Homo sapiens: one gene and its partners. The protein of the gene in region 4 interacts with the protein of the main gene of each other region in a biochemical or structural test. Each region holds a gene or a part of one and is shown on either strand. Other genes may lie near its edges.

Region 1 (4,111 bases), on a different chromosome or scaffold from region 4:
GCCTGGGCAATAGAGTGAAACTCTGTCTTAAAAAAACAAAACAAAACAAAAATTAGCTGGTGTGGTGGTGCATGCCTGTAATCCCAGCTACTCGGGAGGCTGAGGAAGGAGAATAGCTTGAACCCAGGAGGCGGAGGTTGCAGTGAGGTGAGATCGCACCACTGCACTCCAGCCTGAGCGACAGAGCAAGACTCAGACTTGGAAAAAAAAAAAAATAGTGTACACATGCACAGAGGGATGCTGAAAATGGGGATTTTGGATCATATTTAATTTATTTTTTACACTTTTCTCTGTATTTTATGATAAGAATACACTGTTTTGTTTTTTGAGAGATGGAGTCTCACTGTGTCGCCCAGGCTGGAGTGCAGTGGCACCATCTCAGCTCACTGCAACCTCCACCTCCCAGGTTCAAGTGATTCTCCTGCCTCAGATTCCTGAGTAGCTGGAACTACAGACGTGCACCACTACTCCCGGCTAATTTTTGTATTTTTAGTAGAGACAGGGTTTCACTATGTGTTGGTCAGGCTGGTCTCGGAACTCCTGACCTCAGGTGATCCACCCGCCTCGGCCTCCCAAAGTGCTGGGATTACAGGCGTGGGCCACTGCGCCTGGCCCCATACATTGTTTTTATAATAGGAATAAAATTAAGCTATCTTCATTGTGAAACTGTAATACATGTTCCCTTGCCAAGGGCCTGAAGAATGTAAAGGTCACAGCCAAGGTCAGATGACTAAAGAAGTGACAAAATGAGGCACTGTTGCTCCTCCAGTAACTGGTCTCAAATCAGCATTCTGCTGTCAGCATCTGGGAGTAAAACCAGACAGGTCTCTTCCAGACTGCCATACCCTTCCTCTGCTCCAACCTAGCTCCCTGCAAATGCAAGCCACAAAATTCAATGCCTAGACCAATCTTCATTACAGTGTAAAGAAAGTTTACACTGTAAAGAAGGTTACACGCATGTCATAAGGTGATGCAACAAAGAAAAAAAGCAATCTCAGTCTGGCACAAGTTCAAAGCACTTGTCATTATCCTGTTAGTCAGGAAGCTCTTCCCCTAGAATACCCTACACTGCTTCTTCCCATCTCCAGGCATAAGCTAAATTCCTCTATTCCCATGTCCTAGACTCCTGGAGAAAACAAGAAAACAAATTTCTTCCTGTCTGAGCTCTGGGTTCTGACTTCAACTTCAAGCTGCCTTATTAGCGGTCACCTGCCTCTTTAGCTGGGCAGGAAACCTACCCCACTCTGTCCGCGGCACTCCTCTGACTGCCTTTCTGGGGGCTTCTGGCACTTGTTCCTTGAACACCCATCTCACACTTTGAATTCCAGTCTCCCACACCTGTCTAACCTGGCCTTTTCTGGTGGTCTGCTCTCCAAATCCCTCCACTTAAGAGACCTCCTGCTGGCTGGGTGCAGTGGCTCACGCCTGTAATCCCAGCACTTTGGGAGGTCGAGGCGGGCGGATCACGAGGTCAGGAGATCGAGACCATCATGGCTAACACGGTGAAACCCCATCTCCACTAAAAAATATAAAAAAAGTAGCCGGGTGTGGTGGCGGGCACCAGTAGTCCCAGCTACTTCGGAGGCTGAGGCAGGAGAATCGCGTGAACCTGGGAGGCGGAGCTTGCAGTGAGCCGAGATTGCGCCACTGCACTCCAGCCTGGGCGGCGGAGTGAGACTCCATCTCAAAAAAATAAACAAATAAATAAATAAAGAGACCTCCTCCTGGGTTCCCCCTCATGTCTACCTTTAAACCAGAGCTAGAAAAATAGTGGACTGAAGCAGAATTCGGCTGAGACGTGTGTTTAGTTTCATTCAGTGCCAATATTAAGACGTTCTAGAGGCCCAGCACAGTGGCTCAGCCCTGTAATCCCGAGCAATTTGGGAAGACAAGACAGAAGGATTGCTTGAGGCCAGTAGTTTGAGACCAGCCTGGGCAATATAGAGAGACCACATCTCTAAAAATTAGCCAGGCATGGTGGTGCGTACCTGTAGTCCCTGATACATGGGAGGCTGAAGCCGGAGGATTCCTTGAGTCAGGAAGGTGGAGGCTGCAGTGAGCTATGGTTGTGTCACTGCACTCCAGCCTGGGTGACAGAATGAGACTCAAAAAATAAAAATAAAAAAAAATAATGAAGTTCTGGAGACTGCTTACACAATTTACCCAACGCCATTGAACTGTGCACTTTAAAATGGTTACGAAAGTAAATTTCATGTTATATGTATTTTATCATTATTTTTTAAAAAGTTGGCTGGGGGCGGTGGCTCACGCCTGTAATCCCAGCACTTTGGGAGGCCGAGGCAGGCAGATCACAAGGTCAGGAGATAGAGACCATCGTGGCTAACACGGTGAAACCCCATCTCTACTAAAAATACAAAAATTAGCCAGGCGTGGCAGCATGCACCTGCAGTCCCAGCTGCTGGGGAGGCTGAGGCAGGAGAATGGCATGAATCCGGGAGGCGGAGCTTGCAGTGAGCCAAGATTGCGCCACTGCACTCCAGCCTGGGTGACAGAGCGAGAGTCCGCCTCAAAAAAAAAACACTTTTAAATGGTTAAGGTGATACATTTTATGTTACGTGTATTTTACAATTTTTTTTAAAACTCAAGATATATGACATTTAAAAAATGAGGATTTGTGTCTTTGTTTGAGAAAAATCACATCTGATATCAAAAGACCTACATTTTTGCACAACAGTCATCTCTAGTTTACCCCTGACCCTACCACCATACATTCTTTTTTTTTTTTTTTCCACTCTGGCTTCTGGAGCCCTATAAGTTTGTGACTCCTGCTCTAAACCCAGTGTCACTTTTCACAGCACAGCCCTCCAATGTCAGCCACCAGCTGGGCTGGCTAAAGGTCCTAGAGGGGACGACACACTCACCCCTCAGCAATGGATGATAAACTCTAGCACAACAAAGACCATTCCCAAGAACTCTGTGCCAAACCTCACCCAGTCACACTATGTCTTTCCTTCTTTTCTCTCCATTTATCTAATACTGCTCCTCCTCGCTCATCCATGGAGTCTTCTTTATTGACTCCAATTCACAAGGGGTTCTTCCTTCTTTCACATTCTGTAGCACTTGGCATCTGTATTGTTAATTACCTCGTATGTATACATCCCATCTGCTCAATTACACTTCAAGCCCCTCACTCATTCAACAAATATAAAGCAGCTACTCTAGGCCAAACTTTGTTCCAGGCACTGGGAATAGGATGGTGAACCAGAAAGGAAAGGTCCCTGCCATCAGTGGGCAAACATACAAATAAGCATCAGATCTCAGACACCCATCAACACTTGGGGGAAACATGAAGCAGGGTAATGATACAGGGAATGACGGTGGAGGAGTGGGATCTACGTTATGAGTAAGGACAACCAGCGAAAGCCTCTTTGAAGAGGTAGAATCAGCAAAGACCTGCAGAGAAGACGCCAGCCATGAGAAGACCATGGGGGAAAAGCACTCCAGTCAAAGGGAACAGCAATTACAGAGACCCGGTTTCAGGAATAGAAACAGCTGGTGTGGCTACAGCATAGAAGTGAGAAAAGACAATGGCGTAAGATGAGGTCAATGTGGTAAGAAGGGGCTTCAATTCTTTTTTTTTGAGATGGAGTCTCGCTCTGTTGCCCAGGCTGGAGTGCAGTGGCGTGATTTCGGCTCACTGCAACCTTCGCCTCCCGGGTTCAAGCGATTCTCCTGCCTCAGTGTCCCAAGTAGCTGGGACTACAGGCGCACACCACCACATCCAGCTAATTTTTTGTATCTTTAGTAGAGACGGGGTTTCACCATGTTGGCCAGGATGGTCTCCATCTCTTGACCTCGTGGTCAGCCCACCTTGGCCTCCCAAAGTGCTAGGATTACAGGCCTGAGCCACTGCGCCCAGCCCAGAAGGGGCTTCAATTCTATGGGTGATCAATAGTCTATATCTTCTAGTATTTTAAGGACAGGCATTAGAAAAATATATATCATCATCATTTACGTATTTGAAAATGCCCACAGTTAATTTTGATCCCAGTCCTCTTCCTGATGATTACTGGATGACATCAATATTCCTTTCATGCCTTCAACAAACACTCCTTATTTTTATTTTCTTTTATTATTATTATTATTATTA
Region 2 (4,111 bases), on a different chromosome or scaffold from region 4:
GAGCCGAGATCGCGCCATCATGCTCCAGCCTGGGGGACACGAGCGAGACTTTGTCTCAAAAAAAAAAAGAATTCTGAGACAGCTGCCTGGGCACAGTGGCTCACACCTGTAATCCTAGCACTTTGGGAGGCCAGGAATTTGAGACCAGCCTGGGCAACATAGGGAGACCCCCATCTCTACTAAAAACCCAAAAAAGTTAGCTGGGTGTGATGGCATGTGCCTGTAGTCTAAGCTACTCAGGGAGGCCTGGGAGGTCAAGGCTGCAGTATCGTTGTGCCATTGCACTATCGTTTTGCTACTACACTCCACCCTGGACAACTGACTGAGGCCTTGTATTTTCCTTTTTTTTTTTTTGAGCCTGGGCAATATGGTGATGCCCTGTCTCAACAAAAGATAGCTGGGCATGTCAGCATATCCACCCCTGTAGTTCAGTTACTCAGGAGCCTGAGGCGGGAGGATAGATTGCACCGTAGAGATTGAGGCTACAGTGAGCTGTGATCGTGCCACTGCACTCCAGTCCGGGCAACATAGTGAGACCCTGTCTTAAGAAAGAAAGAAAAAAAAGAATTCAGAGACACTAATATAAGTATGGTGGTGGGCAAAATGTGGTCAAATAGTGTTAGAAATTTGTATCTTTTGTCTTTTTTTTTGGTGCAGGTTTTGCAGACATTGGGTACAGAAACTTACCGGCCTAGTTCTGCCTCACAGTGTGTGGCTGGTATTGCTTGTGCAGAGATCCCAGTAAACCAGTGGCCAGAACTCATTCCTCAGCTGGTGGCCAATGTCACAAACCCCAACAGCACAGAGCACATGAAGGAGTCGACATTGGAAGCCATCGGTTATATTTGCCAAGATATAGTAAGTGCTTGCCTAATGTATCTGGTTTATATACCTCTGATTGCCTCTAGCTGTGACATCAATGATATTAGTACTACCTTATTGAATCACGAAGAAAGCCAAGCTAAATTGCACAGTTTTGAAAGTGAGACTGATTTATTTCCCTTAGGCCTGTGTCTTCACATTGCTAATCATGCCCTAAAGTAAAGAAACTTGAGGATCGCAAACTGAAAACAGAAGTCTATGTTTGAAGAGTCTTAGATTCTAGACTTACAAAATGAGGATATTCTCATTTGGATTATCCCTGACCCAGTCTTTTTTCTTAAGATCCCGAATGTACCATGAATGTTGTGGCGCATTTTCATTTACAACATTACGGAAAGTTTTGCCAACATTTGATGTAGTTGGTTTAGCCACTGGAGACACAGTATTTTAGATGTAGCCCCCCCAGCACTGTTGTTCCTGATGAGGTTACCACTCTTGGTGTGTATTTTAATATATAGACTTTATGAAGCAAAGGAGCCCACAGCACTTGACCCAGACTTAGACTCCCTAGATGTGCCTAGGTGTCGATCCTTGGCCTTGGCCCTTAAATGCCCTGAAGCTTTACTTTAGAGTACAGATGGCCTGGAAAATACGAACAGACTGCCATCTCCATTTGCACAGAAGTGGGGAGGAAAGCGAATATTACCTCATACCCAGAGTCATTATGCTAAGAAGTCAAAGATGAAGTTGATGAGTTTGACTTGGTTTTGTTCAGTTCTGGATTGCCAGTACCATGAGACATTTTGCAGGTGGTTTGCAGTGTTATTCCCAAATGGAAACGGGTGGGGAAAGATCACCAATTCATGATACTTTCTTGAGTGAACTTTACAGTTAAAAGGACTGCCAATTAAGCCAGGCACAGTGGCTTACACCTGTAGTCCCAGCTGCTTGGGAAGCTGAGGTGGGAGGATCACTTGAACCCAGGAATTTGAGGGTTCAGTGCATTGTGGTAGTGCCTGTGAATAGCCACTGCACTTTAGTCTGGGCAATACAGACCCTGTCTCTTAAGAACAGAAGAAGGACTGCTTCTGTCGTGAAGCTCCTTATGGCAGTCTTTTGGAGGGGATTGATTCCAGCACCCTCCTCAGGTACCAAAATCCTCAGATGTTCAAGTCTGTTACATAAAATGGTGTAGTATTTGCATATAACCTATGCACATCCTCCCATATACTTTAAATCATCTCTAGAATACTTACAATACCTAATTCAATGTAAATGCTATATTAATAGTTGGTATACTGTATTAAGGGAATGATGACAAGAAAAAAAGGTGTACATGCACCTTTTGGTGCAGTACAGATGCAACCATCCATTTTTTTTCCTCTAAATATTTTCAATCCATAGTTGTTTGAATCCACAGATGTGGAACCCATGGCTGCAGAGGGCTGACTGTATATTCATTGCACTTCTCTGCTTGTTACAGGACCCAGAGCAGCTACAAGATAAATCCAATGAGATTCTGACTGCCATAATCCAGGGGATGAGGAAAGAAGAGCCTAGTAATAATGTGAAGCTAGCTGCTACGAATGCACTCCTGAACTCATTGGAGTTCACCAAAGCAAACTTTGATAAAGAGGTAAGTTTTTTGACAATAAGGTATAGATTCAGACAGTAAGGGATGAAAGAGTTGAATGAAAGTTTTTTGTTTTGTTTTCTTAAGTTTATGGTTTAGAAAGTACCACCTACTTAAAAGTATTTGTTTCCAGTTTAGTCGAGTTCGTATTGTGTGAGATATCCCCATGGAGTGTTTGCCGTTTCTCATCATGCTTTTGGAAATAAAGTGTTTCTAAGCTTAGGTTTTTCCTTTTGCAGTCCAAAGTGTGGAATGTTGTTGGGTTTTTTTAAATTATAGGGCATGGTGGTGCATACTGGTACTCCAGCTACTTCAGAGGCTAAGGCGGGAGGATTGCTTGAGTCCAGTTATTCAAGGCCAGCCTGGGCAACAAAGTCAGATATCGTCCCTTAAAAAAAAGAAAGGAATAGGCTGGGCGATGTGGCTTAAGCCTGTAATCCCAGCACTTTGGGAGGCTGAGGCGGGTGGATCATCAGGTCAGGAGTTTGAGACCAGCCTGACGAACATGGTGAAACCCCATCTCTACTAAAAATACAAAAAAATTAGCCGGGTGTGGTGGCGTGCGCCTGTAATCCCAGCTACTCAGGAGGCTGAGGCAGGAGAATCACTTGAACCTGGGAGGCAGAGGTTGCAGTGAGCCGAGATTGCAGCACTGTATTCCAGCCTGGGCGACAGAGCAAGACTGTCTCAAAAAAAATAAAAAATAAAAAAAATAAAAGAAAGAAATTATGGTATGTACTATATATGTTGGTTTACTTTGGTTTCTTTTAAGATTGTGTGAATCTTTTGCCTTGTACTAAAGATTTTGTGGAGGCCGGGTGCTGGGGCTCACATCCAGTAATCCCAACACTTTGGGCCACCAAGGCAAGAGGATCACTTGAAGCCAGGAGTTTGAGACTAGCCTGTGCAACGTAACAAAACCCTGTCTCTAAAAAAATTTCTGTGGAGAAGAACAACTGAGTTGTTAACCAGTTTTGTGAGCTCTTGTGTTTACAGGGCTTATAATGGAAAAAAAATAATGAAAAATGAAATAAATAAAAATTATAGCAATTGGTCTGTTTCATACCACCTTAGGAAGGTGTTTTTAAGAAACAGGATATATAGCCAGGTGCTTTGGCACATGCCTGTAATCCCAGCTACTTGGGAAGCTGAGGTGGGAGGATCACTTGAGCCTGGGAGTTCAAGGCTCAAGATTTCACCACTGTACTTCAGCCTGGGCAACAGTGCAAGACTCTGTCTCCAAAAAAAAAAAATATATATATATGTATATGTATGTGTATGTATAATATATATGTAAACATTTTGGCTGAAAATGCAATGAATAACATAAAATTTACCATCTTAAATCATTTTTAAATGTATAGTTAGTTAAGTAGATTCACATTGCTGTGGAAACAATCTCCAGAACTTTTTCATCTTGCAAAACTGAAACTGTACATACTGAACAACAACTCCTCATTTCCCCCTTTCTCAGCCACTGGTAACGACCATTTTACTTTCAGTTTCTATGTATTTTACTACTCTAACGAAATACCTTACGTAAGTGGAATCATATTTGTCTTTTTGCGACTGGTTTGTTTTACTTAGTATGATGTCCTCGAGATTCATCTAAGGGGTAGCATTTGTCAAAATTGGCTTTTTAAGGGTGATTAATAT
Region 3 (4,111 bases), on a different chromosome or scaffold from region 4:
GACTTAAAAGTTATTTATACTGAAATCAGAATTTGGTTTATTAGAATTGCAAGTAGTCATTTTTCTTAAACCTTCAAGTACAAATCTTATTTATAAATCCAGAAACAAATAGTTACTTTTATTCTTTGGTTACTGTTTAATTGATAATTGAAAATTTGTTTATTTATTTTGAGATGGAGTTTTGCTCTTGTTGCCTAGGCCGGAGTGCAATGGCTTGATCTCAGACCATTGCAACCTCTGCCTCCTGGGTTCAAGTGATTCTCCTGCCTCAGCCTCCCAAGTAGCTGGGATTACAGGCACCTGCCACCACGCCCGGCTAAGTTTTGTATTTTTAGTAGAGACGGGGTTTCACCCTGTTGGCCAGGCTGGTCTTGAACTCCTGACCTCAGGTGATCCACCTGCCTCAGCCTCCTAAAGTGCTGGGATGACAGGTGTGAGCCACTGAGCCTGGTTATAATTGAAAATTTAATCATAAAATATTTTATACCACTTACACATTTAATCAAATTTCCTTGGGCATTTTTCACTACACTTAGAAGCGTACAGTTATTTTAATCACCTCAGCAGGGTTAACTTAGACAAACCTAACCATGAATTTTCTAAGACTAAACTTGTAAATAGATTTCAAATTTATTTTGTAATTTTTTTTACTCTATCAAACAAATAAATGTAACTCAGTAATTACAAAACTTGTTACTACATCAGAATATGTACTTGTATGAATATCAATGTATTATATGTATATATTTTATGTATATATGTTTGTATGTATATATTGCACATATTATATGTATATATACTTGTGTGAATACATTTGTACTTTCCTTTTTCTTCATCTTCGCTTGTTAACCTTCCTGGGTTATGACTTAATTACCCAAACTGGGAGGAGACTGGTATTACCATTTTAAGTACTCTACAGGATTAAGGAATCAGGTTATGATAGAAGATTATAGGCTATGACTTGGAACTTGGGTGCACTGCCAGATACTTTAAGTCTTAGGCTGAGCCTTTTTTAATAGTAAAACCCCTTTAAAACAAAAACCTCTTTTACAATTTTGTATTTCCCACAAGTCTTGAAACTAATCCCATTATCATTTAATTTTCACAGTGGAACTCTAAAAGACCCTTCCATCCTGAGGGTAGCTAATTTCTTTCCTCTATAGATTCTGTATTGTCCTTGACTATAGAGATCTATCATTCTATAGGTATTTCATTTGTAACTTGGGGACACTTAATGATCATGGTAGTGTGATTGATGAGCTACAGTCTAGCAATATAGCAGTGCAGGTAGAGACTAGAAACTTGGGAGCTGGACACGGAGGCTCACACCTGTAAACCAAGGTTTTGTAAACTTTTTTTCTACAGATGAGGTGTTGCTTATGTTGCCCAGGCTGCTCTCAAACCCCTGGCACCAAGTGATCCTCCCACCTCAGACTCTCAAGTCTCTGTGTAGCCTTAGCCACCACACTTGGCTTCAATTCTTATAAGAAGCAAAAGTAGGCCTGGCAAGGTGACTCATGCCTGTAATCCCAGCACTTTGGGAGGCCAATGCAGGTGGATCACTGAAGGTCAGGAGTTCGAGACTAGCCGGGCCAACATGGTGAAACCCCGTCTCTACTAAAAACACAAAAAGTAGCCAGGCATAGTGGTACATGTCTGTAATCCCAGCTACTCAGGAGGCTGAGGCAGGAGAACTGCATGAACCTGTGAGGCAGAGGTTGCAGTCAGCCAAGATTATACCACTGCACTCCAGCCTGGGCAACAGAATGACACCTTGTCTCAAAAAAAAAAAAAAAAAAAAGCAAAAGTACCAAAAATACTCTTGCCCCCAAATACAGGTTGGAATAACAGCATGGTCACAAGTTTAAGATAAATTGTGGCTTTACAAACACTAATACTAGAATCATCTAAAAAGCTTTTTAAAATACTGATGTCCAGTCCCACCACAAAGATTCTGATTTAACTGGTTTGGGGCATACTCTGGGCAACCAGATTTTATAAAGCTCCCCAGATGATTCTCATCTGAAGATGAAAACCACTAAGAAAAAGGAACAAGTTACCATCATAAGGAACAATAAGACAAATACAGAATGTAAAACATTCTACAGGATAAATGATTTGGTCTCCAGTAAATCAATGGCATAGAAACAAGACTATTCAAGATAAAAAGAGATTTAAGATAATCAGGGAAGGGGCAGGATGCGGTGAGTCACACCTATAATCCCAGCACTTTGGGAGGCCGAGGCGGGCAGGTCACAAGGTCAAGAGATGGAGACCATCCTGGCCCACATGGTGAACAGCCGTCTCTACTAAAACTACGAAAATTAGCTGGGCATAGTGGTGTGCGCCTGTAGTCCCAGCTACTTGGGAGGCTGAAGCAGGCAAATCGCTTGAACCCGGGAGGCAGAGGTTGCAGTGAGCCGAGATCACACCACTGCACTCCAGCCTGGCGACAGAGTGAGACTCCATCTCAAAAAAAAACAAAACAAAAATCAGGGAAGGTGTGGTGGCTCACACCTGTAATTCCAACTTTGGGAGGAGCATTTGAGACCAGCCTGGACAACATAGCGAGTCTTTTTCTCTAGGGGAAAAAAAAAAAACTTAGCCAGGTGTGGTGGCACATGCCTGTGGTCCCAGCTACTCAGGAGGTGGAGGGCTGAGGTGGGAAGATTGCTTGAGCCTGGGAAATGGAGGCTTCAGTGAGCTGTGATCACACCACTGCACCCCAGCCTGGGTAATAGAGTGAGACCCAGGGTGGGGCGGGGAGAGAATCAATCAGTCAATGCATGTATGGACCTTTCTCAAGACCAAATCAAACTAATTGTAAAAAGACACCCAGGGAGGCCGGGCGCGGTGGCTCACGCCTGTAATCCCAGCACTTTGGGAGGCAGAGGCAGGCGGATCATGAGGTCAGGAGATCGAGACCATCCTGGCTAACACAGTGAAACCCCGCCTCTACTAAAAATACAGAAAAATTAGCCGGGCGTGGTGGCGGACGCCTGTAGTCCCAGCTACTCGGGAGGCTGAGGCTGGAGAATGGCGTGAATCCGGGAGGCGGAGCTTGCAGTGAGCCGAGATCGCACCGCTGCACTCCAGCCTGGGCGACAGAGCGAGACTCCGTCTCAAAAAAAAAAAAAAAAAAAAGACACCCAGGGAACAAAAAGAAAATCTGGATATGGACTCTGTGATATTGGCACTTGATGATATAATAAGCAGTCCTTATTTTTTAGAGATGAACTCTGACAAACTTAGAGATGAAATGTAGTGTCTGGAATCTGCCTTAAAACATTCCAACACATTAACCAGTGAAATGAATGGCTTTCTGGAATTTGCTTAAAAACAAGGGAGCAGACAATATGCAACATTCTCTGATAATCACTGAAGTTGGAAAATGGGCACCTAGTGGGTGGGTCATTTATTCTATTATTTTTGTTTGAAGATGTCCATTGATAGTTTCTTAAAACATATGTATACCTCAAACAGAAACCAAAGTAAATATAGCAAGTTAGTAACTTTCAAAATTCAAATTTGTTGGCCAGGCGCAGTGGCTCACGCCTGTAATCCCAGCACTTTGGGACACAGAGGCGGGCAGATCACCTGAAGTTAGGAGTTCAAGACCAGCCTGGCCAACATGGTGAAACCCCTTCTCCACTAAAAATATAAAAATTAGCCAGGTGCCTGTAATCCCAGCACTTTGGGACACAGAGGCAGGCAGATCACCTGAAGTCAGGAGTTCGAGACCAGCCTGGCCAACAGGGTGAAACCCCATCTCTACTAAAAATACAAAAATTAGCCAGGTGCCTGTAATCCCAGCTACTGAGGAGGCTGAGGCAGGAGGATCACTTGAACCCAGGAGGCAGAGGTTGCAGTGAGCCGAGGCTGCTCCTCAAAACAGACTGTCTCAAAAAAAAAAATTATTATTATTCAAATTTGATGATATACAGCGGTGCATTACATTATTCTCATTTGTGTACATCTGAAATACTTCTTTTTTGTTGTTGCGTTTCGAGACAGGGTCTCGCTCACCTAGGCTGGAGCACAGTGGCTTGATCAGGGCTCACTACATCCTCAACCTCACTTTAGGCAGGTCTAGAACTCCTGGCCTCAAGCG
Region 4 (4,111 bases):
GGCCTTCATAATCATCTCCATGGAGGATTCTCAATATCTATCTGTCTAGCCTTAATCCCTTTTATGGGCTTCAGTCCTGGACTAGACAGTTTACCAGGAGTCAGGATAGATTTAATCAAGGACCCATCATTTAGCAATCCCACCTATGGGTGAAATATGTGCAAGAATTCTTAATAGCTAGGTAGAGTGAGGGGTATAACCTGGGAAGATGGAAGAAGAGCCAGGGAAATTGACCCTGAACCCAGAAATTTGGCATTATTAGCTATGTGCTTAACTGGACTTCTAAGTACAAAAGTAAAACATTAAAGCAGTTGGTATTTGGTGTTGGTGCGCTTACTGACATACACTTTTAAAAGTATCCATGCCAAGCCTGGTGACTTACACCTGTAATCCCAGCACTTCGGAAGGCTGAGGCGGGGGGGATCACTTGAGCCCAAGAGTTCAAGACCAGCCTGAGCAATACAGCGAGACCCTGGGTCTCTATTTTTTTCTAAGTATCTATTTTTAAATGACAAGCAAAATGGAAATGCTATGATTTCTATGCCTATAACTCAGTTCTAAACAGTAACTCTTACCTCTGGTGGTAAATGAACTTCCATAGGCACATATGTCGGCCAATAGCCCATTGTCAGGATATTCACAGTTAACTCAATATTTCCCGGAACATTCTGATTCTGCATATACTATAAGAAGATCAAAACACACACTGAGATCTTAAAACTGCATACATTTCATATCATAATAACCTATTTAAGAAGTTCCCTGTTATGAAATTACATGCAAACACTGACCATCCTTAAAATAAAAGGCAACTATTAAGAAGACTTTAAATGAAACCTACACAAAATGCACTAGGCAAGTACAGAGGTTAACATTTTGATACAAAGGCATACAAGGATCACATGACCTCATTACAGGCGTTATCAACTTAAATAATTTCTCACATACAGCTGGGCCGTTATAGGATCTCTTCTCCATTCTTTTCCCCAATACCACCTGCAGTCCCCACCTTTGAATACCCCTATGTGGCTTAAACACCTTGCAGCAACCCCCATTCCTCACCCCCCAGCCAGCCCAAGTCTCCAGTTTTTCACTTGCTCCACTGCCTGTCTGCAGGGAGTGACCTGGAGTAGGGAAGGAAAAAGAGGGGAAAAGGGCAAAGCAGATAAGCCCTATTCTGTAGCTACTATAGAATCCATAATCTTACTGACCCTGATTTTTTCTTAATTCTTTCACTTCCACTTCCCACCTTAGCAACACTGTGGGGTAAAGAAGTCACTACTAAAACCCAAAAGAGGAAAATCTAATTTGCCATCATTATCACCTATGATCTTAAACATTTCAAAACTACTTTCTACCTACATCTTCAAAACTGTGGATCTAGCTTTCTATCCCCAATGTCCCCAAAGGCTTTTATACAGCTGCATTATCACTTCTCCTCTCTCCCCATTGCAAGCTCTGAACATGCAAATTACCAAACGATAAGATGCTGAGGAAAGCCCTTTTCCCACTATAGCTCTTCTTGTACTGACTTCAGTTCAATACATTTTATTTTTATTTTTGTGTTATTCTGGGTGTTTGTCAAAAATAAATCCTAAAGTAGGTCAAATATACTTATATTTCACCAATTTTTTTTTCTACTGTGAATATCACCTCAGTTGCCATGAATTACAACAAACACGTTTCTATTTATCCTCTTTAGTACAAATCATAGCAAGCAGATAACTAAATACAACTAAGTTTGAGGAATTAAGAGTTTAACTCACTTTTACCTGTTTGAACTGAATCATGATGTCTTTAGAAAGTTCCATGTCTTTAAACATTCCTTCAAGTTTGCTGGTGAAAGCAGCTCCGCATTCTATTAAAGATGTTTGTACATGTATAATATTTTAAAGTGGTAAAAACAAAAGAGGTTTAAAAGTGGGAAACACGAAATACAAAACTTTAGTATGAAGTATGATCTGTAACTTTCATAAGAATAAAAAGAAATCCTTACCCCAAAGTGTATGCCCCATTAATTCAGAGTCAAACTCTTTAATCCTGTAGTAACCTTATCTACTATTTAGGTATAAAATAAATGGGAAATTTTTATACAAATAATAAAACCAAGAACAATGCTTTATCTTAAAAAAAACAACTCTGGATATTATGTACAATAAGTTGGAAACCTCAGGAGCTTGCTCAATTTATGTTTTCATCATATATACATAGACATGAGTGACAAAAGAGGAAATCGATTGAAAGGGTAAAAAGCTAACATTCTCCTTCAGGAATCAAAGAAAAGGAACAGAAAGAATGAGAAACCTACCATGTTTAAGTTTGGACAGCATTGATTTTTCAGCATCTACAGATGCACTCTTTCCGACTAACAGGCGCTTGGCTAAATCTTTCTTATAGAAGGCCTCAAAAACATCCTTGCCTATGTAAAAAGAAATGCAAAATTTATAATATTCCAATAAAAAGTACTGACAAAACTGCTTTAAAGTGCTTTAATAAAGCACACCATTATTCCAAGTTATTTTACTTTACACATTTTATTTAAGTTTGTTAAATGCAAGAAACAGTAGAGATCCATTTTTGTGCCAGACATTTCGAAGTCTTTATTGTAAAACTTTTTTGCATGTAACTGTCTTGATTGCATTAACTTTTCTTCAGAAAAGCTTTTGTGGACTGGTAGCTTTGGTGCCAATATTTAAGAGATTAAGCCAAGTAGCAAAAATCAAGGCACTTAATACTAGAAGAGCCAAAGCATAGGACAATCAGGTAACATTCCTCACGTATCCCCCCAATGAATTAAACACAATTTTAAATCTGTAATTTCCAAATAAATATTCCCTCCAGTTTGAATATACTTGCTAGCTTCTCTGTTGAGTGCTATTTTAAAAGAAAAATATTAAAACATTAGTAAATACTTACCATAGATAAATCTAAATATGATCATAATTTTATCCAACATTTTCTCAAGTTCTTCATCTGTAGCTTCTTTGTTGCCTGCACGAAGTTTTGAATCTACATACTTAGCTAAAATGGGGGAAAAGTTTGTTGTTTAATAACCGGGGAATACACGAGGTACTGGGCACTATATATACCCAAAGAGGAGTATGATACACTGAGTTTTTCAATACTTCAGAAATTTATATGCATTTTTAAAAGTCTCCAAAGTCAGGAAGATCAACTGACTTGTTCAGTGCCATAGAGCTAATAACATCAGGGCCTGAACACAAACCCAAGTGTTCTGACTCCAGATCAAATGTACTTCCCACTATACTGATGTTTATGAAAATAGGATACGGATATCCTGTGGGGGAGGTCTCATGTAGCCCTGTGAGGGCATCATGTAATCCAAGCCACGAAAAGACATGAGGAATCTTCTGGAGTATCCATTTTATAGGAATAGTAAGCAATCTTAAACATTACTTTTCTATTAAAATAAACCAGATACATCGTAGAGTAGAAGGTAAAATTTGCTACATGTTTACGGATACATAGTAGATAGGTTGCAACAAAATTTCATCCTTTTGGCAGAGGACCCTAGACCTTCTCAGGTTACCTCCTCCTCTGACACTAAGGGTACTTGGGTGGAAAAACCTGAGAAGCACTGTAGTGTATATCACATCCTTATGCTAAATGGGCCCAGATTATTAGGTTTATTTTTGCCCTGGACTTTTTTCTTTTTCACTGACAACTGTAATTTCATGCTGCCCTTTTTTGTAGCTTGAAATAACACCCTGCCTCATTTTTAAATCATTAGGCTAGGAAAACAGATTAGCTTATTATCAATAAAGGTAAATAGTGTCCAACGTACTGTCTTTGAAAGAAAGCACATTATGTTTGACATGTGGGCTTTCAGTACTTACATCCAGGTTTTTAGAAACACTCTTCAAACTTGATATACCAGCTAAGCAACCTCAAACAAATCAGGAATTAGTAATACTACAACCTGGTAAAAATTTCAGATTGAGATTTTATGACTCAAAGAACATCATTAAACAACTGGAAAAAGGACTGGAAAACATACCTATAAGTTCAGCTGGTTTATTTGGTCTTTTGTTAATGAACGTTTCAAATGCTTCTTTCATGGCATTGATAAATTTCTCATTCTTCAGAAAGC
Region 5 (4,111 bases), on a different chromosome or scaffold from region 4:
GCTGAGGCACGAGAATTGCTTGAACCAGGGAGGTGGAGGTTGCAGTAAGCTGAGATTGCACCACTACACTCCAGCCTGGGTGACAGAACGAGACTCTGTCTCAGAAAAAAAAAAAAAGAGACAATGATATGAAAAGGTCTTACATGAATGAGTTTTACGCATGATTCAATCTGTAAGTCCTATAAATTATTTTTGATGGATGGTATCTATTTTCTTCCTATTAGTAGTTTTGGGCAAAAATAAATTTAACTGAATGTAAAAATATTCAGCTCTATGGGGAGCTGAGAAGAACTAAATATTTTCAGACACTTGTTATGTGCAGGTTGTTTGGCATATATTTTTAAAAATCTTTATAATACCATTTTGAATTAAATTCTATCCCCATTTAACAAATGAGGAGGTGGTTTCTATTCTTAAGTAACTTTCCCAAAATCACTCAATTAAGTGGCAAGGGTGGGATTTAAATCGAAGCCTATACTCTTTCACTTGTTTCCAAAGATGCCAAACTCAAAATGTGGCTAAACAGTAAATCTTGAGCAAAGAAATGATTTACTAGGAAGCAGCACAATAGAACATACTGGATGTAGGAAATGTTATATATCTTGATCTCATTGGTGGTAACACAAGTATATACATATGAAAAAGTTAGTTTTATCCTTACTGTTAGTACTCAGTGCTCTTATTATTCCTCAAAAATGAAAAAAAAAGTAAAAAATAGATTATGTTAATATGTAAATGCCCATGAGGAATCTCTTAGAAACACAAATAATTAAAAAAATAGTAAATGTTTTAGAAAAAACCAAATCACAAAAACAGTTAAAACTTAGTTTACTAAATTGAGTAAATGATGTTTGTTTAAATATTTAAATACAAATATTTAAATCATTTTTGCAGCAATCAAAGTATCGTGTTATGAACAAAGATCAATGGTACAATGTATTAGAATTCAGCAGAACAGTCCATGCTGATCTTAGTAACTATGATGAAGATGGTGCTTGTAAGTATAACATAACATGTTCCTTTGAAAACAAAATTTCCAAAAATATTAAATGAGAGTATGCATTTGTGTAGTATTAGCATAGAGGTTTTAAACTTTGTAATAGTAACTTATTTAATTGTGTGAGGGATTGTGGGAGAAGTAGAGAGAGAGCTTAGATTCAGCAGTATTATATAAAATCTATGCTGGTAAATGAAATGTTTTCAGTTCCTCGGCAACCAAACATTTTAGCTAAATTTAAATTATAATTTTTGCATCCAGAAGCTAAAATTCAGCTTTGTTTCTGTCTTTCCTGGCATTTGCCTATGGAAGAAAAGTACAGTCATGATTTTAAAAATATAACAGCAAAACAATCAGCCACAATAGAAAAAGCTTTAACATTATTGTAATATTATGCTACCCATTAACAATATGGCAAATAATGTCAGTATAACTTCTCTCTGAAAACTATAAATTGATTGTGAGCTAACTGATAGTGAAATAGTTATAATTTTTCAATCCGTCAAGTTAAAATATCTGTCCATACTCCTCCATGGAAAGGCTAGAATGCCATAAAACAGGATTTTGAAATAATGATAAATTAATTAGATAAACCAAGTTAATTCTGTAGAACTATAAATTTTTTTCAGTTCCAACCACCATTTTGGTTGGTTGCATGTGTTTTCAGTGTTCAGAAGGGTTACAAGGAAAGGTACATTCCTATAAACTTAAACTGAAATTATACACTTTTTTCTGTGACACTGAAAAAATAAAATAACAGAAGAAGGGATAACTTTATTTCTTCCCACATATATTTTGTCCTCTCTCTACAAGATGGTATAAAATTTAGTATTATTTTAAAGAAATAATACCTAGCAGCAGTAACCTGGCAGCCCAAAGGCTGTATATGGCCCGTAGATGTGTATATTTATGTATTTTGTATCAGCATTTAAAACTAGGAGATTTTGTATTAAAATACAACATTTAGATTTGTTGGAAAAATTTAAAAAGTCTGACAAAACTGTACCTTTATAGTACTCCTTTATAGGAGTCAGAGGCTGGAGTCAAGTGTTAACTGTGTTGGACTTGCTTTTCAGTTTGACAGTTCATGGTATGCCAACACCTAGGCTGTTTTTCAGTTGCCATTTATTATCATATGTGCTCTGCTGCTTTTCTTACGATAGAGAAACATGTCTGTCAAAAGCAATGGAAAAAGACCACCAGAGGATTATGTGTTTTAAGAAGAATAAAGCAAGCATATTTCTTTGTGGCGGTGATTTTTTTCCTACATTTAAACAAAATAAACACTGAGCTCATTTAAACTGCCTACTTGGCTCTGTCAGCAAATGAGTTTGGACCTCCCCTACGTTATAAAAATATATGTTTTAGAATAGTACTTAGCTCATTAATTAGATATTCATTAGGCACTTGCTTTGTGTTCAGCTTTGTACTACATCCTGTTATTGGAATAAAGTAAGTCTCTATTATGGCTGATCCCTCTCAACAAGCTTGTACACTTCTTGGGGAGGCAACATAGAAATATTACCTTCAACACTTTTCAGATTGTTTCATAATTAAATGCCAGAATGCTATGGACACTTAGAAAAAGGGAGAGATTTGTATTGACTCAGTTACTGGAGGGTTCATGAAACACCTTGAGAAGGAAGTTGCTATAGATACCATTGTTCCTTGTGTCTTTAAGGGCAAAAAAGAAAAGGCTAATAAGAAAGCACCATTAAATGGAATAAGGTGTCTAGAAGCAGAACACCCAAAGAAAGGAAGGGTCATTCCTCTGTCATTGCAGAGCTCGTGGGGAGTTTGTTTTATAATTGGAGAGATGAGTTCACTGAATTCTGACAAAAATGGTTTCTTTTTTTCTAGGGCCTGTTCTTCTTGATGAATTTGTTGAGTGGCAAAAAGTCCGTCAGACATCATAGCAAGAACTATGTGAAGAAAATGCAAACCTTTCAATTCCCACGTGTATACAAGCTAATGTGATGAGGGGGAAAAAAATCCAACGGGTGCATTTTCATTCATATGAAAGACTTCTCATAGTACTTTTTTTTCCTTTTTTTAAAGGAGGTTTTTCTTGTTACATGTGATGGGCATTGAGCCACACCTCTTCTTAGACTGAATATTGAAGTTTTTGTTTTGAGTTATGTTTATAACATTTATTTCAGAACAATAAAGATTCAGATTTGTGACAAAGGCCTTAAAGTGAAGATGTCCCTTGAGTGTCAGAGTGGTATTTATTTTTGTAAATTTGAATTTTTTGATTTTTGAGGTTCCAATTCACCGTGAATTTACAGAATTTTCAAGATTTTAAACAGTCTTAATATTTGGCAACATAGTCTGCTGATGGTATGGCTCATTATAGTCATCTCTGCACAATTTGGAAGACTGTTGGCCTTGACTTCTGGGATAATGATTTGCTGATGCAGCTAATAAACATTTCTAGGTATTGGAAAAATGCTCCTACTTTTAGCTCTGGGTTTCTATAAAAGCTGCCAAGGTCTTATGCAGATGTCTTATCTCAGAGAGCTTAGAATTGGAAAGATTATGTCCAGTTGTTTTGTTTTCTAAAAAAGTTGTATTATTAAGTTGTATCATCATTATTATTGTTGATAATAGCATATTTATATTTTTAACTGTCATTATATAGGGAATTTTGTTTAAAGCACTTTTTTTTTTTTTTTTTGCCTTAAGAGAACGTTAGCTGTGATATGGATTTAATTAAGATACACATAGGAAAAGAAGACAATAGAATAAGGAATCATGAGAGAACTCTGGGTATAATTAATTGTGCACAACTCAATAGAGCCATTTACGTTGGTAGTATTGCAGCTTGCTAATTATCACAATTTTCTGCCTGTTGGTAATCAAGTGTCTTGAGGAAAGGGAAGGCTTTCCTAATTCATGTAAAAGGCACTTTTGTACTAGCAGCAGGCCTGTTTGTACATTCCTTTTCAAACCATCCAGTATCCCAGTGATATGAAAACTTTGTTCATATTCATAGCCCAGTCACAACTTCAGAAACATTTCTAGTGTCATTGTTTGAGTAGAGAGAAGTAAAGAGGTTATTTTTCCATAATAAGGGAGTGTTTCTATTAGGATTTAAGGTAAAGGTTGATTTTT
Region 6 (4,111 bases), on a different chromosome or scaffold from region 4:
GGCCCTGCTCTTACGTGGTCCATCGAAAGGTCAGGGACCTTTGTTTGCAGTGGTCCTTCTAGCTCTCTGCCAACCTTTCCCTGGCCCCTGGGTTTAAGCGGCTGACCTTGGCTTCCAGCTTGGGTCCAACCCAAACCAGAGAAGGCCTTTCACCCCCTGCAAATGATGTAATGGAGGTGTGTTGATGGGAGGTGCCACTGAAGCCAGGGGCGGCAAGCAAGGAGTCCTACCCTCTAGTGACCAAAGGCACACTGGGCTGCAGGTTTAGCCACCAAGTCCTGCCCCAGTTCAGGAAGAAGCAGATGTCCCCAGGTCCACTGTGAGCCTTTTTAATTGCATATACAACACAGCCAAGGAGAAGTTATTGTGTAAAGTTCAGTAGTCAAGGTGTGGCTGGGTCCAGACTCTGACGTTAAACGACGGAGCTGAAGTGGGGGGTGATGATGGTCGCCCCACAGCCTGCCTGCCAGCTCAGCGTCTCCCAGCGGGTAGCCAGCAGGCAGGTTAAAATCGTACAACCAAGAAGATGCCACCTACTTTCATTGCAGTTGGCTTCTCCAGAGCCAGGTTTGATGACTGGCAACGCTAAGCCACAAAGTGTCCAGAGGGTGGCAGCCACACCCTAGGCAGGTGTCCCCCTCCCACTCACCAGTATGAGGTTAAATCGGTCGCTTGCCAAGGCGGAGGGATCCATGCTTCGAATCTGGACCTTTTTCCTCTCCATGCAGCTGAGACGCAGCTCGTGGGCTAAACTGCAGAAACAGAGGGTGGGGGCATGGATGCTGAAGCTGACATCCATGAAGAAGATTCGGGGGTCTCTGGCCTTCCCTGCCCCGCTGACGCCCATCTCTCCTCGTCAGCCTGCTCCACAGTACTTCTCAGCAATGGAGCTGAGCAAGATCCCAGATTATCCGAATTTGAGTTTCCCCACAGAACGCTCAGGAAGATGAAAATGAAGAAGTGGGTGGCCCATTTGCAGAGTCAAAGAGTGGGAGTTAGAGGGAGTTGTGTCTGCATCATTCAGTACAGCTCCTTCCCCTGAGATGACGAAAGTGCGGGAGATGAAACAATGGTCTGGAGGGCACTCCGCTGCTGGGAAGAGCCCCAGGATACGGCTGCCGGGAAGAGCCCCAGGATACGGCCGCCTCTTGTTTCGCAGGGTGAGGAACAGATCTAACTAGATTTTTAACTTTCTGTCTCAGAAGGAGGAAAACAGGAGGGGCCTGCCCTGCCTGATACCTACGGTGTTTCTGGCCTTCCCTGAAGGGGCCCTGCTCCAAGGTCCGAGGGCTGTGCCCCAGGAAGCTGCCTCAAATGCAGGTTCTTCACTTGAGCATGTACAGTGGGGGCAGGAGACGCAGCGCTGGGCGCTCAGGTGTTGGAGTCAGACAGTTCCCCACTTCTAGCTTTACCTTGAGCAAATCACTCCACTCTGAGCCTCAGTCTCTTCTTCAGGAAATGGGGGAAAGTATCGGCCTATTTCACAGGGTTTTAGTTAGAATTGTATCAGCCATCATAAGTACTTTGATAAGGTTTAGTACACACACATCCACTTAATGCCCCATTGTTGGTGACAACTCATTAGAAGGGAAAGAAGGATGCAGAAATGTCATGGGAATGAAGTTGTAGGAGCTTCTACTAGAATGACTTACGAGTAACAGAGAATAGACATCTCTGCCTACGTCCCCATCCTCTCTCCCTATCCTCCTGCAAGAGTCCCCCGCCTTCGCTCTAGAGAGAACAGCTTTCTCAGGGTGGGTTTAAGCAGCAGAAGGCAGGGTGTGAACTGGAGCCCCTCAACTGTGCAGGTGCTTCACGGGGTAGCCACATGGTCTATCCAGACTGGATTCTTATACCATGAAAATAAGAAACAGGAAAAGAACATTCATGAAGAAAACATAACAAAGAGGCATTGTCTTACTGGCAGTAATTGGTGACGTTGAGAAAACCCAGCTGGCTTTTTCGTAGCATGGAAGATGCATTAAATCCCATCCTGGCAATCTATATTTATTACAAAAAAGAGAACAATTCAATGAAGATTTATTTGTTAGGGGATGATGGAGAATGTTTTTAGTTCCATAGGATGTAATGAAGGAAACAGGCACTAAATTGGCAGAAATTATATGCATAAAAATCTGACGGTGTCCTTTCCAAGTCTCCCTTCCTCGGCAAGAGGAAAGGCCCAGCAGAAGAAAGTGTGAGTGGGAAAGTCTGCTCGTCAACTCTGCCCACGCTCCCCATCCACATACACCCGGGGGGACGAAGCCACCAGGTGCGTGAGTGCAGCAATGGGACTGCAAACAGGTCTGCACCACTCTCCATTCCACCCGTGGTGACCCAGGGCTGGAACTTTACATTCCATTGCCTACCTTGACAACAAAATATGTTAGCGTCTAGACCTGTTGGTCTGTATTGCAAACAGACAAGATGGCCTGTATTCCAAACCATGCATCCTGGTCTTCTATTTAAAATAGACAGCTGGGATGGGCATGGTGGCTCACACCTCTAATCCCACACTTTGGGAGGCCAAGGTGGGCGGATTACTTGAGGCCAGGAGTTCGAGACCAGCCTGGCCAACATGGTGAAACTCCATCTCTATAAAAAAAATACAAAAATTAGCTGGGCATGGTGGCAGGTTCCTGTAATCCCAGCTACTTGGGAGGCTGAGGCAGGAGGATCACTTGAACCTGGGAGGCAGAGGTTGCAGTGAGCCGAGATGGCGCCACTGCACTCCAGCCTGGGCAACAGAGTGGGACCCTGTCTCAAAAAAACCCCAAAAAACAGTTACTAAAATTATATCACACTGCCTCCCAAGATTCCTTCAGGAATGACAAAATGTTAGAACTGCTGAAGAAGGCTGGGTGTGGTGGCTCACGCCTGTAATCCCAGCACTTTGGGAGGCTGAGGCAGGCAGATCACTTGAAGTCAGGAGTTCAAGACCAACCTGGCCAACATGGTGAAACCCTGTCTCTACTAAAAATAAAAAAATTAGCTGGGCATGGTGGCACGTGCCTGTAGTCCCAGCTACTCAGGAGGCTGAGGCAGGAGAATTGCTTGAATCTGGGAGGTGGAGGTTGCACTGAGCTGAGATCATGCCACTGTACTCCAGCCTGGGCAACAGAGTGAGATTCCGCCTCAAAAAAAAAAAAAAAAACAACTTATCGAACAAGAAAACGGGGATGGAAGAAGGGGGCTCTTGGCTGTTCTTATTCTTGTCTTCTTCCTGTCAGGGAAAAGCTAGGGCCACACCCCCTGAAGTGCCTCTGCTAAGTGTCGCAGGGGCATCTAATTGGCACCCTTTTCAACAGTGGATGGACAGGTGCTGGCAGGAGCGGAGAGGACAGGGGGCGAAGGGGTGAGGAGCCCACCTTTTTCCGTCTGTCTTCTTCCTGGAGCAGCCGCAGTCTCTTGCTCTCCATCTCCTTCTGCCGGATGCTCTCTTTCGTCAGGGGGTTGCAGTTGTTATGTCCAGGGAGCAAGCGGAAGTAGCGTTTCTTTTCAGGGTCAAAGTAAAACCCAGGTAGCTCTTTAGACAAAAAAATTAAATGCACCAATTTCAACCACTGTGAACTGACCACCTGAGTTGGGCGCCCAGTGGCCTGTCCCCCCACCTCGTGGCTGCCTGTCTTTTCTGAGGGCGGGGATGAGCTGCCTTGTCAGGCAACATCCTGGACTGTGCTCAGTCCTGGGGGAGGCGGTTTGCCTCATGACCACCATTCCTGACGCACCCAGCTCCTTCCCTGAGTGTTTCAATTTGCTCCTGGAATTCCTTCCAAGCCAGGAACGGGTCTCAGCCTTCCCTGTGTGCAAGGGCCAGGATTCCCACCCCGCAAGTGGCCTTACCTGGCACAGAGGAGGTCCCAGCTGTGCCAGACGAGGTTGACGGAGACTCGTCATCACCGTGGCCGGAATCGTGAGCGGGCTGTGCTGCCCGGGAGTCAGACCTGTTGACACACAGCTGTGTTAACTTGCAGCCCAGGACTTGAGTTCCAGCCATTCTGACGGGGGCAGGGAGTCCATTCGGGCAGTTCTGCAGCCTTCACCTCTGATCTCTGACCTTTCTGATTACTTGAGAAGCACTGATCCCCTCTTGCAAATACAACAAAATAGG
Region 7 (4,111 bases), on a different chromosome or scaffold from region 4:
AAAAATGGATTGGGCTGGGTGTGGTGGCTCACACCTGTAATCCCAGCACTTTGGGAGGCCAACTCGGGTGGATCACTTGAGGCCAGGAGTTCTTTAGTAAAAATACAAAAATTAGCTGTCTGTGGTGGTATGTGCCTGTGGTCCCAGCTACTCGGGAGACTGAGGCAGAAGAATCGTTTGAACCCAGGAGGTGGAGGTTGCAGTGAGCTGAGATCGAGACACTGCACTCCAGCCTGGGTGATGGAGTGAGACTCTTACCTCAAAAAAAAAAAAAAAAAAAAAAAAAGGTTAAAAATGGATTAATCTGCACTGTAAAATTTTAATAAACATATAACTTTCTACAATGCTTTCAAAAATTAAATTTATTAAAATGTTCAAAGATTCTTAATTTTACTTTTGTAAAAAGTCTCAGAAAATTTTTTAATGGCCTCAGTTAACTGTCAATTCTTGTCAACATAAGAGCCCCAAAAGCAGATAATCAAAATGTATAGGTAATTTGTCCAGTTGAGTTAATTCACTTTTTATACTTAAGAATTCTGTCAAAGTGTAACCCTGTTCCCTCAGAGAATATAAAATCTCTGTATACGAAATGCAGCCACTCTTTCCTCCATCACCTTAATTCTCTTGAGATCACCGGAGTCAACTATTACAAAGATCTTTAGGATAGCACATTTCCTTTCACATAACCATTCAGTCAAATGCAACTAGTACTTATTCACTTATTAATACTATCTGTAAAGCAGTATTAGGCATTTTTTGGGAGAAGCTACTCAAATGCCAAAAGCCTTATGCATGCAAAGCAGTCAACAATACAAGACCATATGTTAATAAATGCCAATTTAAATGATGCAGGCAATAAATACCACCAACTTTCACCATTTAACAAAGATTAAGGAGTCCAATCGTTATAGAAAGAAGGAATGTGTGATTTTACAAAGCAGTACCCAAGAGTTCTGTGACTGCAATATTTACCTTATTCTAGTCACTAACCTAACATTCGACAGGAAAAGAAATTCTCTGGATTTCAGTTCTCTCATCCATAAAAATACCAATCTACCTCAAAAAGTAGCTGGCAGAAGAACAAATGAAAATCAGTACCAAGCTCAATATTTAGAAAGTTCTAGAGAAACGTTTATGACAATGTTAAAAGACAATAGAGAGTACCATTCCAGAAGTATCCTTGACAAATGCAGATTAGTCCTATCTAGGTAAGTTTCAACAAGAAGCCACCATCTTTTAAAAAGAAAACAAGAAATAAAATAATAAGTGCTTATGATGCCTGCCACCAATGAATATAAAGCATTTCATAAATATCAATTAAATTCTATGACTGCCATGCCAAGGTTAAAAATTACATATGTAACAGAAGTTAAACTAAGGTTCCATTTCAATGACTAGCCAAAAAGTGCCATGCCAAACCAGCAACAAAGAACAATCCAAAAAGCCTTCACTGCAGTTAACTATTACGCTTACATAATACAGCATCTTTCTTCATGAAATACAGATTTCTCAAAATGTTTGACCTTCAATGACGAGGATTCAATTTACAGCTAAGCATCTTCTGGAGAACGGTAGGTCTGTCTTTTTTTCAGAACTCGTATTGTATACCACTAGTTTTATTTTAAATAGAACAACTTTCTAAGTAAAAAAAAAAAAAAAGTAATAGTTGTACTGTAGATGACATAATAAAAACAGTGGCAAAGAATTTCCACTTCAAAACTTAACTATTTCCCTCTTTCCAAAGCACATAAAAATAAGTTACCTGTCATAATGAAATATTTTCGTTAACAGGGACTTAGAGGCAAGTAAAAAATATTTTAGGACCACAAGCAGAAATGGCCAGCTTGGTTTAAAACCAACCGAGCCTCAAGTCCCTTTGGCAAAAGAGCGCATGACTCACTGCTTTAGAACTCAATGGGAAGATATTGAAAATTCACTCTGCCCTAATATTTTGCTTTGGGTTTTTTAAGACATCTTCATCTTATTTTTATTTATTTATTTATTTTTTGAGATGGAGTTTCGCTCTTGTTGCCCAGGCTGGAGCGTAATGGTGCGATCTCGGCTCATTGCAACCTCCACCTCCCGGGTTCAAGCAATTCTCCTGCCTTAGTCTCCCCAGTAGCTGGAACTACAGGTGTGCGCCACCATGCCCGGCTAATTTTTTTGTATTTTTAGTAGAGACGGGGTTTCACCATGTTGGCCATGCTGGTCTTGAACTCCTGACCTCAGGTGATCCACCCGCCTCGGCCTCCCAAAGTTCTGGGAGTGTAAGTGTGAGCCACCATGTCTGGCCAGACATCTTCATCTTAATGTTGACAATTTCTATAGCATCCATGACTTATTCACAAAGATGACAAATTATGAATAACATGAACCACATGTAAACAAGAGGGTCTTATTTTTGCTGGATACTTAAAATATAAGCCATAAAGTCTCATATACGCAGACAGACAGACAGACACACACACACACACACTTTCTGTCTCTCTGTTACTTAGTATACAACTGAGAGAGAAACATTTATATTATTTTTAAAAAATAGAAAATAGGGAAGGGTGTGGTGGCTCACATCTGTAATTCCAGAACTTTGAGAGGCAGAGGCGGGCGGATCACGAGGTCAGGAGTTCCAGACCAACCTGACCAACATGGTGAAACTCCATCTCTACTAAAAATACAAAAATTAGCCAGGTGTAGTGGCAGGCACCTGTAATCCCAACTACTCAAGAGGCTGAGACAGGAGAATCGCTTGAACCCAGAAGGCAGAGGTTGCAGTGAGCTGAGATCACCCCACTGCACTCTAGCCTGGGCAACAGAGCAAGACTTCCCCTCAAAAAAAAAAAAAAAAAAAAAAAAAGACACGGATGTTCTAGCTAGAAAAGCATAAATTATGATTCTGACTTTTCCTTCCCAGAAACATCTCAAAATCTCTTTACACTAGAGATATTTTATCTGGAAAAACAGGTAACAAAAAATTGTACTAAAAAATTCCTTCCAATCTCATTAAGAGTTCTATACAGAACTATGAATAATTTTAAAAATTAATCTCCAAATTAAGCCTAAGATTCTCCAACATGTATCAAGAAACACTACATACACTTGGAACTAAAGCTCCTTAAGTCAAATTATCTTAAGCTCCTGATTAACAACAATCTACTGAAAAATCACCACTCAGTGTGTGGGGTTTTGTTTGTTTGTTTTTGACAGAGTCTTGCTCTGTCGCCCAGGCTGGAGTACAGTGGCACGATCTCGGCTCACTGCAACCTCCGCCTCCCGGGTTCAATCTATTCTCCTGTCTCAGCCTCCCCAGCAGCTGGGATTACAGGCGCATGGCACAAGACATGGCTAATTTTTTTGTATTTTTAGTAGAGACGGGGTTTCACCATATTGGTCAGTCTGGTCTCGAACTCCTGACCTCAGGTGATCCACCTGCCTCGGCCTCCCAAAGTGCTGAGATTACAGGCGTGAACCACTGCACCTGGACCTTAGTGTGCTTTGATATTCTACAAACAGTAGGAATAGGGATATGTCAGACACATAATACAGTGAATTATCATTCCCAACCTTACTCATTTCCTCACCATAATAACCCTTCTACTTTCTAATCATATTAAAAAGAACAAAAGTGTAAAAATACATCATACACTGACAAGCATTCATAAGGCTAATCAAAGTCACATTTACCACCTATATGTGAAATTCTTTTGAAGATGTCTACTCATGTGAATGCTTGATACAGGGCATTAAAATGACCTACCCTAGCTTATGGCAGTATCTCACAAAAAGGTCCCTTTCAAAGAGCAACACAAGAGAAAAGATCTGAAGGGGCTTTCATGCAAATTATCTTATCCTTTTTTCCCCACCTTTTATGTTCACTATTTTAAAATCTCAAATAGATTTACTGTTTTAAGTAAAACAATTGTAGTATTTTTCTTAGATTATTGCAGTATTCCTGTACCCCCTATTTCTTGCCAAATATTTCTGACATTAATTTATACTTATATGGCGAGAACAATAAAAAACATTAACAAGAGTGTAGATATATGTGTGTGTGTATCTTTATATATTAATATATACACACACACACACAGGGACAAATAAGGAGACAATAAGT

The links.
Region 1: the proteins of CUL4B (region 4) and DDB2 form a complex in vitro, tested with the Homo sapiens proteins (one study listed by BioGRID).
Region 2: the proteins of CUL4B (region 4) and KPNB1 form a complex in vitro, tested with the Homo sapiens proteins (one study listed by BioGRID).
Region 3: the proteins of CUL4B (region 4) and BRWD1 form a complex in vitro, tested with the Homo sapiens proteins (one study listed by BioGRID).
Region 5: the proteins of CUL4B (region 4) and DCUN1D5 form a complex in vitro, tested with the Homo sapiens proteins (one study listed by BioGRID).
Region 6: the proteins of CUL4B (region 4) and DCAF4 form a complex in vitro, tested with the Homo sapiens proteins (one study listed by BioGRID).
Region 7: the proteins of CUL4B (region 4) and PAFAH1B1 form a complex in vitro, tested with the Homo sapiens proteins (one study listed by BioGRID).

Annotation. Positions count from the first base shown.
Region 1 is NC_000011.10:47,217,381-47,221,491, reverse strand, and holds part of DDB2 (DNA damage-binding protein 2), read right to left. Parts: intron 1-4,111.
Region 2 is NC_000017.11:47,656,203-47,660,313, forward strand, and holds part of KPNB1 (importin subunit beta-1), read left to right. Parts: intron 1-657; coding exon 658-858; intron 859-2,305; coding exon 2,306-2,458; intron 2,459-4,111.
Region 3 is NC_000021.9:39,306,701-39,310,811, forward strand, and holds part of BRWD1 (bromodomain and WD repeat-containing protein 1), read right to left. Parts: intron 1-4,111. UniProt on the Homo sapiens protein: May be a transcriptional activator. May be involved in chromatin remodeling. Plays a role in the regulation of cell morphology and cytoskeletal organization. Required in the control of cell shape.
Region 4 is NC_000023.11:120,536,352-120,540,462, forward strand, and holds part of CUL4B (cullin-4B), read right to left. Parts: coding exon 4,019-4,111; intron 3,022-4,018; coding exon 2,917-3,021; intron 2,420-2,916; coding exon 2,309-2,419; intron 1,859-2,308; coding exon 1,773-1,858; intron 684-1,772; coding exon 576-683; intron 1-575.
Region 5 is NC_000011.10:103,061,161-103,065,271, reverse strand, and holds part of DCUN1D5 (DCN1-like protein 5), read left to right. Parts: intron 1-894; coding exon 895-997; intron 998-2,857; coding exon 2,858-2,913; 3' UTR 2,914-4,111. UniProt on the Homo sapiens protein: Contributes to the neddylation of all cullins by transferring NEDD8 from N-terminally acetylated NEDD8-conjugating E2s enzyme to different cullin C-terminal domain-RBX complexes which is necessary for the activation of cullin-RING E3 ubiquitin ligases (CRLs).
Region 6 is NC_000014.9:72,939,635-72,943,745, reverse strand, and holds part of DCAF4 (DDB1- and CUL4-associated factor 4), read right to left. Parts: intron 3,945-4,111; coding exon 3,844-3,944; intron 3,527-3,843; coding exon 3,369-3,526; intron 2,002-3,368; coding exon 1,922-2,001; intron 753-1,921; coding exon 650-752; intron 1-649. UniProt on the Homo sapiens protein: May function as a substrate receptor for CUL4-DDB1 E3 ubiquitin-protein ligase complex.
Region 7 is NC_000017.11:2,596,147-2,600,257, reverse strand, and holds part of PAFAH1B1 (platelet-activating factor acetylhydrolase IB subunit beta), read right to left. Parts: intron 1-4,111. UniProt on the Homo sapiens protein: Regulatory subunit (beta subunit) of the cytosolic type I platelet-activating factor (PAF) acetylhydrolase (PAF-AH (I)), an enzyme that catalyzes the hydrolyze of the acetyl group at the sn-2 position of PAF and its analogs and participates in PAF inactivation.